Linked DNA regions of Homo sapiens. The protein of the gene in region 2 purifies or fractionates together with the protein of the main gene of each other region. This does not show direct contact. Each region holds a gene or a part of one and is shown on either strand. Other genes may lie near its edges.

Region 1 (3,500 bases), on a different chromosome or scaffold from region 2:
ATACCACATGCTATTCTAACCCACAGGACCACTGAGAAGATCTAAATTAAATATTGTACACACAAGTGCTTTGGAAACAAATTTCAGTGCTAATGAGAAGTACTATTAAACTCCTCCTGCCTTGTAGAGCTAAACAAAGTTGTGCCACCTGCTCCCAACAGAGGCTGCCTCTCAGGGGACTCTGCTGGGCCCTGAGGGTAACCAAAAGCAGCCTGTCACCTTTCTGCTCAGAGGCGGGAGGTCATAAGGTCAGCCACCCCTTGTGGCTAAAGGAGACCACCCTTTACCTGGCACTTCCCTGCCCAAGCAGGGAAGAAGCAAGCTCTGGTCTGATGGCTGAGAGGGCACCGGAAGAGAGATAGCAGGCAGGGTTGCTAGCAGAGAACAAGGGATAGGCCTCCTGAATGCAGGATTCAGGTGCATCCAAGAAGACTCACAAAAACAAAGGACAGGTGCACAGCTGGACACAGAACACCTACAGCTTTCTCAAGGCAGGGACAGGGCTCCCACCAACGACATGTGCCCAACTCCTAGAGGGAGTCCTACAATTCCTGAGTGCAGGTGCAGTGAGCTGGGCGCTTCTCAGTGCAGGGCCATGTGCATCTGCTGCGGGAATGCCAGAGGCAGGAGATGCAGCTGCACCCCTCTAGCAGGCTATGCCAAGACTCGAACAGACAATAAATAGCAATTTGACATCACTGAAGATAACCTCTCTGAGCCATTTCCTCATCTGCAAAACAGAGACAGCTTTTATCTCATGTGATTTGAGTAGGGATTAAATAAGATTGCTTTTATAAAGTGCCTGACACTACTCTGTAGATACTAAGTGGCAACTATTATTAAAACACACACACCCGTTCAACACAGGAGATGTCACAGGGCAGGCAAGGCCTAATGCCACTGTTATGGATAAACAATAAGGGAAAAGGGTTTGGGAGAGAAAGAGAAAGTGACTGCTGTGGGCTGGGAAGACCTCCCAAAAGGGGAAGAATCTGCACGGCCCTGAAAGTTACTACAGTGAGCTGGGCACTCTACCAGGCATTCCCACGTTCAGCCTCTACGTTGGTCTTAAGGATGAGGCAAGTCAGGTTCAGAGAATGAGGTGCATGAACCTCAAGGTTCATGGTCACACAGGTACTGAGAGGCAGCATCAGGAGCAGAACCCAGGGCTTCTGACTACGTCTTTCCTTTGTACCAGGGCTGGACGCCATGGGGCTGGCTTGGAAGGAGAGGAAAGGCAAACTTCGAGGGTGCTCAGCTGAATGAAGTCTGGGCAATCTGACCAACTAAGCCCTCTAAGTGCCTTGGCACTCCTAGAGACACATGTCCTACCTGAAGCCTTCCTCCCAGTCCCCAGCTGACCTCCCTCCCACTGTTCTGCAGTCAGTCTGCTATTTTCCCAAAGAGAAAAAGGTCATCGCTTCCTTTTTAGAGTCCTATCTGGGCTTCTTGAGACAGTTTCAAGGTGACCTTTAGGCTATTTGTTCTTCTCTTCTTTTGAGAAGTGAGAGAGGCACCTTCTAGTGTCATTTTTATAGGAAACCAGTTGCTGGGTCTGATATCCATGCATGTGAAGTGGGCAGTGACCCCATCTCCCCTATTCACAGACTTAATCTACAGAGGAGATGGCAGGATTCGCCTTGCAAAGACCAAAACCAAAAAAAGCTATAAGATATAAAGGGACAAAAGAAGCCTTTTGTGTCCCTGGTCAGGAGACAAGATGAATACCTGCTTTATGGGCTCCCGGGCCTCTGCCAGGCATTCTGGGTCAGGAACATGGGTAAACAATTGCAGGAGATGCCAGTGGTGAGCTGAGTTACAGTGAGGCTCTCCTCTGGAATAAGTACTAGCCTGGGAGTCAGGTGAACATGGAACAAAGCAGAGTTCATGCGGGGTCCACAGCACAATGTGGGGTGGGGAATGCACCTAACTCCTAAGGCTTGGAGTCATTCCCACAGTTTTCCCAATAGCCTAAATCCTCTTCACACCACTGGCCCCTCCCCACCAAGGACAAGCAAGAATTCCTGACTGCTGGGGAGAGAAAAAAGGTCCAGAGAGGGAAGGTGACTTACCTAATGTCACCCACTGAGTCAGAGGTAGACTAGAACCCAGAAGCAACTATTCTAGAACTTCAGCTCCCACCCTGCTCCTCCCACCCCAGTCTCTGCAAGAGTCTACCCGAGGCTCTGCTCCATGGTTAGGGTAGGAAGGAGAACTGCAAAGCACTTTCTATTCTTATAGGAGGGGTAACCTGCAAGGGAAGCAGCTGCCATAGATGACAGAATGAGGGCTCCAACGGAACTCCTACCCACGCAGGGGTGTTGAGAGAATAGGCAAGACCCCAAAATCAGCTCCCAGGCTCTTGGGTATCTGAGAGTGCAGAGGGAGCATGGCCTCAGCCCCCCACCCTTATCCCTACAAGGCAGCTGGTGTCATCTTCCCTCCCGCCATGACCAGCTCAAGTGAACAGTATAGGACACATGGAAACCCTGATACCCTAAGGAAGGACATTGGTGGCAGCCTAGGTTTGAGAGATTTGTAATCCTTCAGCTCAGAGGAAGGTTGTAGGAGGCTGAGGTAGGGATGCATTTGCTGTAGGTGGTTAAAATATTAACAGGGGCAGCTGTCACTCATTGAACACTTCCTGTGTATACAAACTTTTATGTGCATTTATTTATGTAATAATCACATTAATAGCACTATAACTGGATACTATTAGTTCCCATTTTATTTTTTTTTATTTATTTATTTAGAGACGGAATTTCACTCTTGTTGCCCAGGCTGGAGTGCAATGGCGCAATCTTGGCTCACTGCAACCTCCGCCTCCTGGGTTCAAGCGATCCTCCTGCCTTGGCCTCCAGAGTAGCTGGGATTACAGGCAGCCGCCACCATGCCCAGCTAATTTTTTGTATTTTTAGTAGAGACGGGGTTTCACCATGTTGGCCAGGCTGGTATCAAAACTCCTGACTTCAGGCGATCCACCCTGCCTCAGCCTCCCAAAGTGCTGGGATTACAGGCGTGAGCCACTGCGCCCAGCTTAGTTCCCCTTTTATACATGAGGAAACTGAGGCTCAGAGATGCTGCTAAGTGGCAGAGTGGTGGCTGAATTCCACACTGCAAAGGTGAAGCTGGGAAAAATGGGCTTTCATTTTTGAGGCCTGAACAGGGACTCTTCAGATCTTTAGACCACCTTTCTCTCCACTCATGGCCAGATGCTAGAACTCCTGTTTTCAGAGGCAGAAAAATGCCTTTCCAAGGCAGAAACAGACTTTTGGAAAGGAGACCACATCCAGCCTCATCATTTTACAATGGGAAAACTGAGGTCCAAGGCTGAGTGACTTGCCAGAGTTTCCAGAGTCAGTGGAATGACAGAAATATCACACCTGGAAGGGACCACAAAGATCAACTGATGGGTAGGGAGGCGTGACTGGTCCAAGGACAGAGGGAGGTAGGAAGAGAAGCCAGGTTTTCCTGACTTCTAGACTGATATTGTTGCCATG
Region 2 (3,500 bases):
GAATGAATGAAGGGGCCTTATTCCCCCATCTAGAAAGTGGGACTGACTCCACCTCCTTGATTTATGGAATACAGCTGGGAGGTAATGGGGGTGCAGGGGCTGAGCAACTCCCTCCTGCCCTGTCCTTGCCTCTGTGCTAGCCCTGTGGATTTCTTGGCTGGGGACAGGCCCCGGGCAGTGCCTGCTGCTGTTTTCATGGTCCTCCTGAGCTCCCTGTGTTTGCTGCTCCCCGACGAGGACGCATTGCCCTTCCTGACTCTCGCCTCAGCACCCAGCCAAGGTACCCACTGACCCCCAGGCCCTGGGGTTGGTGTGATGGGATGGGGTAGGGTGGGGTCTCGGAGTTTTAAGCTTGGCTCAAGGAGATGAGAGTAACAGGAACAGCTGTCAATGAGATGGGCTGCTATCCTGAGACGTGACCTTTTTAGACCATCCAGTCTTTACAACGATGCTACAAAGTATGCATATTAGCCCCATTTTGCAATGGAGGAACTGAGAGCCAGGGAAGTAGTATCTTAAATTGAGTATTTGCTCAGGCACCATGCTAAGCATTATATATCCACCTTCTCATTTTGCCCTTGCTAATATACTGTGATTATTTTCATTTTACAGATGGGAAAACTGAGGCTCCAAGAGGTAACTTGCCCAAGATCACAGAGTTGAGACTAGTCAGAGCCTGGATTTGAACCTAGTGTTCTTGCCCACTGAACGTGCTGAAGGGCTTGGAAGCTGGAGACCGAAGAGAGGCCTGGGTGGGCTCACTGCAGGCCCCATGTCTGCCCCTCCAGCATGGGTCTCTCTGCTTGTTTCACCTTCCAGGGGCCTGGAAGATACTGGGACTGTTCTATTATGCTGCCCTCTACTACCCTCTGGCTGCCTGTGCCACGGCTGGCCACACAGCTGCACACCTGCTCGGCAGCACGCTGTCCTGGGCCCACCTTGGGGTCCAGGTCTGGCAGAGGGCAGAGTGTCCCCAGGTGCCCAAGGTAACCGCTGATCACAATGGCCTAGGGCAGAGGGGCGCACAGAGCAACCTACTCAAACCACAGTGCCTCCTTTGAGCTCTGATTCTATGATGGGCCGCCCTGCAGCCTTCCATTGTGCATGGGATTCCATGCCTTCAAACATGTGCCCCTTCCAAGCTTGGCTGCTCTGCAGGAGAGGCAGGGAACAAGGTGGCTGGGCCCAGCCCTCAGGAACTTTAAGTCTAGGAGGTGGCGGAGAAGGGGAAGTGGGCAGAGTAGGGGGAAGAGAAAGCCTGAAATGGCCCCCACCCCCAATGCCTGTGTTAGTGATCCCCCAGCTTCCCTTTGGTCAGGCTGGAGAGGGAATGGGAGTGAAGCTTGATGGAGGCCGGCAAGTGCGAAGTCAGGGATGGTCTAAGAGGGCTGAGAGGAGAATTCCGGAACCTCAGGACCTTGCTCACTGGCTGCTGGCTGGGGCTGTGAAGCTGTCCAGTCTAGAACTCAAAGAGTGATGGTACAGGCTTTAGAGCCAGACAACCTGAGTGTGAATCCAGCTTCACCACTTCATTCATTCACTCACCCATTCATTCAACAACATATTTGAAGCACATACTTTGTACCAGGGACATTTCCAGGCACTGGACTACAGCTATGAACAAGACAAACAGTCCCTAGCCTCCCAAGAGCCGTCACTTCAGAAGGGCAGACATGACACGCAAACAAAATGATGCCAGGTGGTACCAAGTGCCTTGGGGAAACAGTGCCACCTTTCTGAGACCGTTTCTCCATCCGTCCATGGAGCTGATAACACCAGTCCCTCAGGGTGGAGGTGAAGACTAAGAGGTTGCTTTGAGAGGGGGAACTTGGTGGCTTTTTTTCACCACCTAGAACCTGGCACATACTAAGCTCTCAATAAAAGTATATTGAACCAACAAATAAATGAATGAGTATACAAAAAGCCCACCCCCAGGAAGGCCTCAGCCCTGAGGAGTAGGGCATAGACTTTCCTGATGCTCAGGTTGAAAACTATATGTAGGCAAAGGCAGGCTTTCGTGTGATTTTCAGAACTGTTCCTAATGCTCCGGGAACACAGAAACAGAAAGAGGTGTCCTTTCCAGTGGGGGGCAGGAGGGAATCAAGTGATCTCCTCCTCTTGGCTCCTCTCAGGCCCGTGGGGATCCAGGAGCCTGGGGGAGGGGTGAGCATCTCTGCAGGGCTCGAGAAGGGGAAGTGGGCAGGTTTGCGCTGGGTGGCAGGTTGGGAACCATAGAGCTGAAGCCTTCCCATGGCCCCCCAGACCACCCTCAGGGCCCAGTGTGAGGTGGGAAGGGCAACGGATTCTGGTTCTTGGCTGGGGGAAGAAGGTGGAAAGTAGTCTGTCTGGGTGTTTGTCTGTCCAGATCTACAAGTACTACTCCCTGCTGGCCTCCCTGCCTCTCCTGCTGGGCCTCGGATTCCTGAGCCTTTGGTACCCTGTGCAGCTGGTGAGAAGCTTCAGCCGTAGGACAGGAGCAGGCTCCAAGGTAAAGGGGCAGGCCTGGGATGAGCTCTTCCTCAGCACCCAAGACAGCCCTACTCCCCCGTATCTGTGGTCCCAGATACATGGCCGTGCTTGATGTAGGGCCCAGCACAGAATAGATGCTCAGAAAATGTTTGCTGAGTGACTGCTTAGTCCTCCCTCCCTAGGCAAAAGCTGGACTGGGCCCTTGACTGGCACCCAGGATACCCGCGGCACTGGGCTGTGTGAATAGTAGGGACTTAACAAAGCAGAACTGAGTCAGAAGCCAGGAGAGTCATATCTCTGTCTGTGAAACACTGAGATCTGGCTGGAGAGACAGCCTGGAGCCTTGTGCCTAATCCGAGTTCTGCACATAATGAGATGATTCAGGAAGCACCCAGGGCAGAACTCCATTATGAGTCAACTCTAGGTTGGATGTGGTTGAATAATTTCAGATAAAGGGGAGGGCTGAGAGGGCTTCCTAGAGGAGGTAGACTCTACAAGGGCCTGAAGGACAGGGAGATCTAGAGTGATGAGAGAATAAGGAGCAGGCATTGTAGGCACGGGAAAGAGCATGAGTAAAGGGGAAGAGATAGTTTTGTGTCTGTTTTGTTCATTATATTTGCAGCACTGGGTGGGTCTTGGCCCTTAATAGATACTCAGCAAATATTTTTGAATTTTTGAATAGATGGATGAATGGATGGATGGATCGAAGGAAAGATGTATGGAAGGAAGGATGGATGGATGAATGCATCATGGTAAAAGAGAATTCTTAGAAGATACTTCAATCTCACTAAAAAGCCTTCTAAGCACCTACCATATGTCAGGCCCCGGGCTCAGTGCTGTGGACTTGGAGCTGATGGACTTGTGTCTGATCTCCAGGAGCTCCCAGTGTGGTGGGGGAGACAGATGCGGCACAAAACACCTGCAGTGCAATGTGAAACCTGCACCGGGTGTTGGGACTGTGGTGCAGGGGGCGGGGTCCACTACTTCTTTCTGGTGAGAGAGGAGGAGGAAGAAAGCTCTGCAGAGACCCT
Region 3 (3,500 bases), on a different chromosome or scaffold from region 2:
GAAACCCCGTCTCTACTAAAAATACAAAAAATTAGCTGGGCATGGTGGCGGGCGCCTGTAGTCCCAGCTATTCTGGAGGCTGAGGCAGGAGAATGGTGTGAACCCGGGAGGTGGAGCTTGCAGTGAGCTGAGATCGCGCCACTGCACTCCAGCCTGGGTGACAGAGCGAAACTCTGTCTCAAAAAAAAAAAAAGTTTGCTGAATAATTTAAAGTTGCTGCTCTGCCCCAAGAGGTCTCCTGCTTGTTCCCACTCTCTGCTGTAGGAAAACTTTTTTTTTTTTTTTGAGTCAGGGTCTTGCTCTGTCACCCAGGCTGGAGTACAGTGCGTGATGTAGGCTCTCTGCAGCCCCAACCTCCCCGGCTCAGGCAATCCTCCTGCCTCAGACTCCCAAATCGCTGAGACCACAGGCACATACCACCACACCTGGCTAATTAAAAAAAAAATTTCGTACAGATGGGGTTTTGCCATCTTGCCCAGGCTCGTCTCGAACTCCTGGCCTCAAGTGATCCCCCCACCTCAGCCTCCCAAAGTTCTGGTGTTAAAGGTGTGAGCCACCGCGCCTGGCCTGCAGGAAGATCTTTACTCCTCAGCGTCTCACTCCAACAGAGATCCGGCTCCCACTCTCAAGCTCTCCCTGTTCCTCTCCCCACCAGGCGGGTATTATCATTCCCATTTTACAGACGGGAAAATCAAGGCTCTATGACACCTCTTTACAGGCGTCATAAGGAACCTGAGGTCCAGGCTGGCTCTCCCGGAAAGCCCAGAGTACCTGGTATTTGTTGGTGGAATTGAAGGGAATCTCAGCCACTTTCTTGTTGCGTTCACGCATCAGCTTCACGGAGCCAGAGGACAGCTCGATGCACTTGAGCAGGGCAGACTCAGACGCATCCCCAGCCACATCCCTCTGCAAGGAGAAAGGGTTGTCAGAACAGGGACAGCTGAGGGGAGGACACAGGCAGGGCCGAGGTGAGGCCAGTAGCTGAACCCACCTTGAGCACAGGGATGTTGTCCTGACCACCCTTGAAGACAGCGCGATTGCAGAGCCCAGCGATGTGAGACAGGGCCACCCAGGTGTGCGAACTCTTGTCAAATGAGGTCCCTGGGGGAGGCATGTGTGAGGGCCAGGGACTCCTGGAGCCAGGCCCCCATGGTCCTCACCCGGGGCCTGCGCTCACCTGACTGGTCCTCAGTGGTGTCAGCCTCGTGGATCTGGTTGTCAAACCACATGTGGGCGACTGTCATGCGGTTCTGAGTGAGGGTCCCTGTCTTATCTGAGCAGATGGTGGACGTGGAGCCCAGGGTTTCTACAGCCTCCAGGTTCTTCACCAGGCAGTTCTTCCGGGCCATGCGCTTGGCGGTCAGCGTCAGACACACCTGGAGGACGAGCAAGGGCAGGCAAGTTACAGGGACAAGCCCGGCAGCAGGGTTGGATGAGCGACACGAGGGCCACAGCCCAGCTGCCCAGCCCCCAGAGAATCCTGAGGGCCTGGAAAAGAATGAGGCAGCACCCAGCAATGCCACCCCCAATTCAGACCAATAGAAACAGGGCAGAGACACCCAAAGACAGGGACTAGAATGCTCATAGCAGCCACATGCATAATAGTGCAAAACAGCCAGGTGCAGTGGCTCACGCCTGTAATCCCAGCACTTTGGGAGGCCGAGGTAGGCGCATCACTTGAGATCAGGAGTTCGAGACCAGCCTGGCTAACATGGTGAAACCCCATCCCTACTAAAAATACAGAAATTAGCAGGGCATGATGGTACACTCCTGTCATCCCAGCTACTTGGGAAGCTGAGGCACGAGAACCCCTTGAACCCAGGAGGTGGAGGTTGCAGTGATCCGAAATCGTGACACTGCACTCCAGCCTGGGCAACAGAGTGAGACTCCAACTCAAAAAAAAAAAAAATTGTCCAAAACTGCAAACTACTCAAATGTCCACTAACAGCAGAAAAGATAAATTGTGGACAATGGAATACTAACATTGATAAAAACAAATACATTACTGCTGCCTGCACCTGCATGGGTGAACGTCAAAAACATGTTCAGCCAAAAAGAGCCAGAAATGAGTTCATACTGAATTATTCCGTTAATAGGAAGTTTGAACACAGGCAAAGTTAATCTATGCTGTTAGCAGCCAGATCAGGGGTTACCCTTGGGTTGGGGGGCAGGGGCTAAATAAGGTCTTGAGGGGGCTTCAGGGAGACGCAGTCTCGTTGCAGCTGACGTGATTCTGTTCAGTTTGCCCCAAATCATCAGACTATGTGCTCACAATATGCTTAATCCTTTGCGTATAAAAATCCATTTGACATAGGGTAGCATTCAACATTGCTAATATGGAAAACAGTAAACTTTTTTTTTTTTTGAGACACAGTCTTGCTCTGTCGTCCAGGCTGGAGTGCAGTGGCTCGATCTCAGCTCACTGCAACCTCCACCTCCCAGGTTCAAGCAATTCTTGTGCCTCAGCCTCCCAAGTAGCTGGGATTACAGGCGCCCACCATCACGCCTGGCTAATTTTTGTATTTTTAGTAGAGATGGGGTTTTGCCATGTTGGCCAGGCTGGTCTTGAACTCCTGACCTCAAGTGATCCACCCACCTCGGATTCCCAAAGTGCTGGGATTACAGGCGTGAGCCACCCTGCCCGGCCCTAATATGGAAAACTTCACATAAAACATTAAGTCAAAGAATGAAAGAGGAGAATGGTATTTCTAAGATAGTCCCTGCCATGCACCTTGAAGACAGCATTTAGTCAATATGCTCACAGCTGTCAGGCGGAACCTCACAGAGAATGGACTTCTGGGGTGAAGCTGGCAGCAAAGCAGCCAGAGAAAAAATTTTTAAAAATAATAATAATAATTATTATTATTATAATAATTATTATTATTATTATTTTCTTGAGATGGAGTCTCCCTCTGTCACACAGGCTAGAGTGCAGTGGTTCAATCATGGCCCACTACAGCCTCAACCTCCCGGGTCAGCCTCCCAAATAGCTGGAACTACAGACATGTACCACCACGCCTGGCTAATTTAAAAAAATTTTTTTTTTTTTTTTTTTTTTTTTGAGACAGAATCTCGCTTTTGTCGCCCAGGCTGGAGTGAGGTGGCACGATCTCGGCTCACTGCAAGCTCTGCCTCCTAGGCTCAAGCTATTCTCCTGTCTCAGCCTCCTGAGTAGCTGGGATTCCAGGCACCCATCACCACGCCTGGCTAATTTTTATACTTTTAGTAGAGATGGGGTTTTGCCATGTTGGCCAGTCTGGTCTCGAACTCCTGACCTCAGGTGATCCACCCGCCTCGGCCTCCCAAAGTCTTGGGACTACAGGCATGAGCCACTGCGCCCAGCCTTCACATTTTTTGGTAGAGATGGGTTCTTACTATGTTGTCCAGGCTTGTCTCAAACTCCTGACCTCAAGCAGTCCTCCTGCCTCAGCCTCCCAAACTGTTGGGATTAAAGGCGTGAGCCACTGCGCCAGGCTTATTATTTTATTTTATTTATTTAT
Region 4 (2,182 bases), on a different chromosome or scaffold from region 2:
ATGGGTATGTGGTGTGTGTGTAGAATGTGTATATATGTGGTGTGTGCATACGGCATGTGGGTGGGTATGTGTAGTGTATATATGTGGAATGTGTGGGGGGCAGCATTTGTGTGCATGTATGCTGTGTGTATGTGTGGTGTGTGTGATGTGTATGTGTGTGTGTGGTGTGTTATGTGTGTATGTTGCATGTATGTGTGATATGTATGGGTATGTGGTGTGTATATGGTATGTGTATGTGTTGTATGTGGTATGTGTGGGGAGGTTGTGTGTGGCATGTGTGTGGTGTATGTGTTATGTATGGTGTTTGGTATATGTGGTGTGGGTATGTGGTGTGTATGTGGTATGTGTGATGTGCATGGTGTGTGGTGTGTGGTGTGTGTATGGGATAGTGTAGTGTGTGTATGTGGTACGTGATTGGGAGGTGGCATGTGTATGTGTGTGTATGGTGTGTATGTAGTATGTGAGAGGGTGTATGTGTATGGTATATGTGGGATGCATGTGTGTATGCGTGCAGCCCCTGGATGTGAGGGCTGGATCAGGCATGTGAGGGGCCCCCTCTCAGAAAGCACAGAACTAGGCATGAGAAGGGAAGGTGGTGGCCGTCCATCAGTCCAGTATCTTCACAGCACTTGTTACCTAGAAATAGGATCATCATTTGCATCATGTCTGTATCAAAGTTCGTCACACTCCTCCGTGCCACAGAGATTGTGCCAAGATTGAGGCCCCAAAAAGCGGAGAGAGTAGGTGAAAAGCTTAACCTGCCTCACAATTTTATCAGGGCCCAGGCACAAGGACTGAGAGTTCATGTGGGAGCAATAACACCAGTGGTCACTCTCCCGAGGGAGACCCACTCAGTCCGCCATTGAATCACTGACTCAGGACTGTGCCAGATGGTGTAAAAAAGGCTACTCTTGTCCTCATGCCCAGCCTGGGAGGGTGCAACATGGAGATGCAATGCCCACTCTTCTGATCTTGACTCTCACCTCCTTTGTACCCTGCAGATATGTGGAACCTGCCTCTGGACAGCCGCTACGTCACCTTAACTGGGACCATCACACGAGGGAAGAAAAAGGGTCAGATGGTGGACATCCATGTCACATTGACAGAGAAAGAGCTGCAGGAACTGACCAAACCTAAAGAGTCATCAAGGGAAACGACGCCTGAAGGAAGAATGGCCTGCCAGATGGGAGCTGACCGTGGGCCCCATGTGGTCCTCTGGACGCTGATCTGCCTGCCTGTGGTTTTCATCCTTTCTTTTGTTGTCTCTTTCTACTACGGCACTATCACCTGGTACAACATCTTCCTCGTGTATAATGAGGAAAGGACCTTCTGGCACAAGATCTCGTATTGCCCTTGCCTCGTTCTCTTCTATCCAGTGCTCATCATGGCCATGGCTTCTTCCCTCGGCCTCTACGCTGCTGTGGTCCAGCTCTCGTGGTCCTGGGAAGCATGGTGGCAAGCTGCCCGGGACATGGAGAAAGGCTTCTGTGGCTGGCTCTGCAGCAAGCTGGGTCTGGAGGACTGTTCTCCCTACAGCATTGTGGAGTTGCTTGAATCCGACAATATCTCAAGCACTCTCTCCAACAAGGACCCCATCCAAGAAGTAGAAACCTCCACGGTCTAAACTCCCAACAACTTACTCCCTCCTCTGGCCCCAGTAGCCTATATATCATCTTAAAATTCCAGCAGATTATTTCTTTAAATTACCCCCTACTCTCCGCAGTTCTTCTGGGAAATCAGAGTCCATACTGATCAGTTTTACCATCTTGAGGGTTCCAGGAGGGCATGGAGCAGACAAGCAATTGTGCCAAAGCAGTTCACCCAATGGACAAACTCTTTTTGATTCCCTGCCCTAAAATCACCATTTATTTAGGACAATGGAACTCTGCTGTGTGTCGTTTTGGGAGCCTGGAAGTGTTACTGGTGCCTGGAACTGAGGGGAGTATGTGACTAAATGTGTCAGGGAGAATAAAGAACCTCGGGGTAACCAAATCCACCAAGATAATAGACAGGGATGGAGTGAGACATTTAGGAAGCTGGACTACCACAGTGTAGCAGAAGGTAAAGATTTGTGTGTATCATTTAGATTTAGATTTAGCTGCATAGAATTAAAACCCTAAAATATCAGTGGCTTAAACAAGATAGAAGTGTATTTCTTTCTTGTGCAGAAGAAGTCTGGAGG

The links. The genes of interacting proteins can lie anywhere in the genome.
Region 1: the proteins of STRA6 (region 2) and SLC9A1 purify together in Homo sapiens (affinity purification with mass spectrometry; one large-scale study listed by BioGRID and IntAct). This does not show direct contact.
Region 3: the proteins of STRA6 (region 2) and ATP1A3 purify together in Homo sapiens (co-immunoprecipitation; one large-scale study listed by IntAct). This does not show direct contact.
Region 4: the proteins of STRA6 (region 2) and TMEM169 purify together in Homo sapiens (co-immunoprecipitation; one large-scale study listed by IntAct). This does not show direct contact.

Annotation. Positions count from the first base shown.
Region 1 is NC_000001.11:27,148,626-27,152,125, forward strand, and holds part of SLC9A1 (sodium/hydrogen exchanger 1), read right to left. Parts: intron 1-3,500. UniProt on the Homo sapiens protein: Electroneutral Na(+) /H(+) antiporter that extrudes Na(+) in exchange for external protons driven by the inward sodium ion chemical gradient, protecting cells from acidification that occurs from metabolism.
Region 2 is NC_000015.10:74,192,788-74,196,287, reverse strand, and holds part of STRA6 (receptor for retinol uptake STRA6), read left to right. Parts: intron 1-140; coding exon 141-280; intron 281-612; coding exon 613-636; coding exon of another isoform or gene 637-686; exon of another isoform or gene 687-819; coding exon 820-986; exon of another isoform or gene 987-1,901; intron 1,902-2,365; coding exon 2,366-2,488; intron 2,489-3,500. UniProt on the Homo sapiens protein: Functions as a retinol transporter. Accepts all-trans retinol from the extracellular retinol-binding protein RBP4, facilitates retinol transport across the cell membrane, and then transfers retinol to the cytoplasmic retinol-binding protein RBP1.
Region 3 is NC_000019.10:41,980,731-41,984,230, forward strand, and holds part of ATP1A3 (sodium/potassium-transporting ATPase subunit alpha-3), read right to left. Parts: intron 1,377-3,500; coding exon 1,178-1,376; intron 1,102-1,177; coding exon 992-1,101; intron 907-991; coding exon 772-906; intron 1-771. UniProt on the Homo sapiens protein: This is the catalytic component of the active enzyme, which catalyzes the hydrolysis of ATP coupled with the exchange of sodium and potassium ions across the plasma membrane.
Region 4 is NC_000002.12:216,098,919-216,101,100, forward strand, and holds part of TMEM169 (transmembrane protein 169), read left to right. Parts: intron 1-1,001; coding exon 1,002-1,624; 3' UTR 1,625-2,182.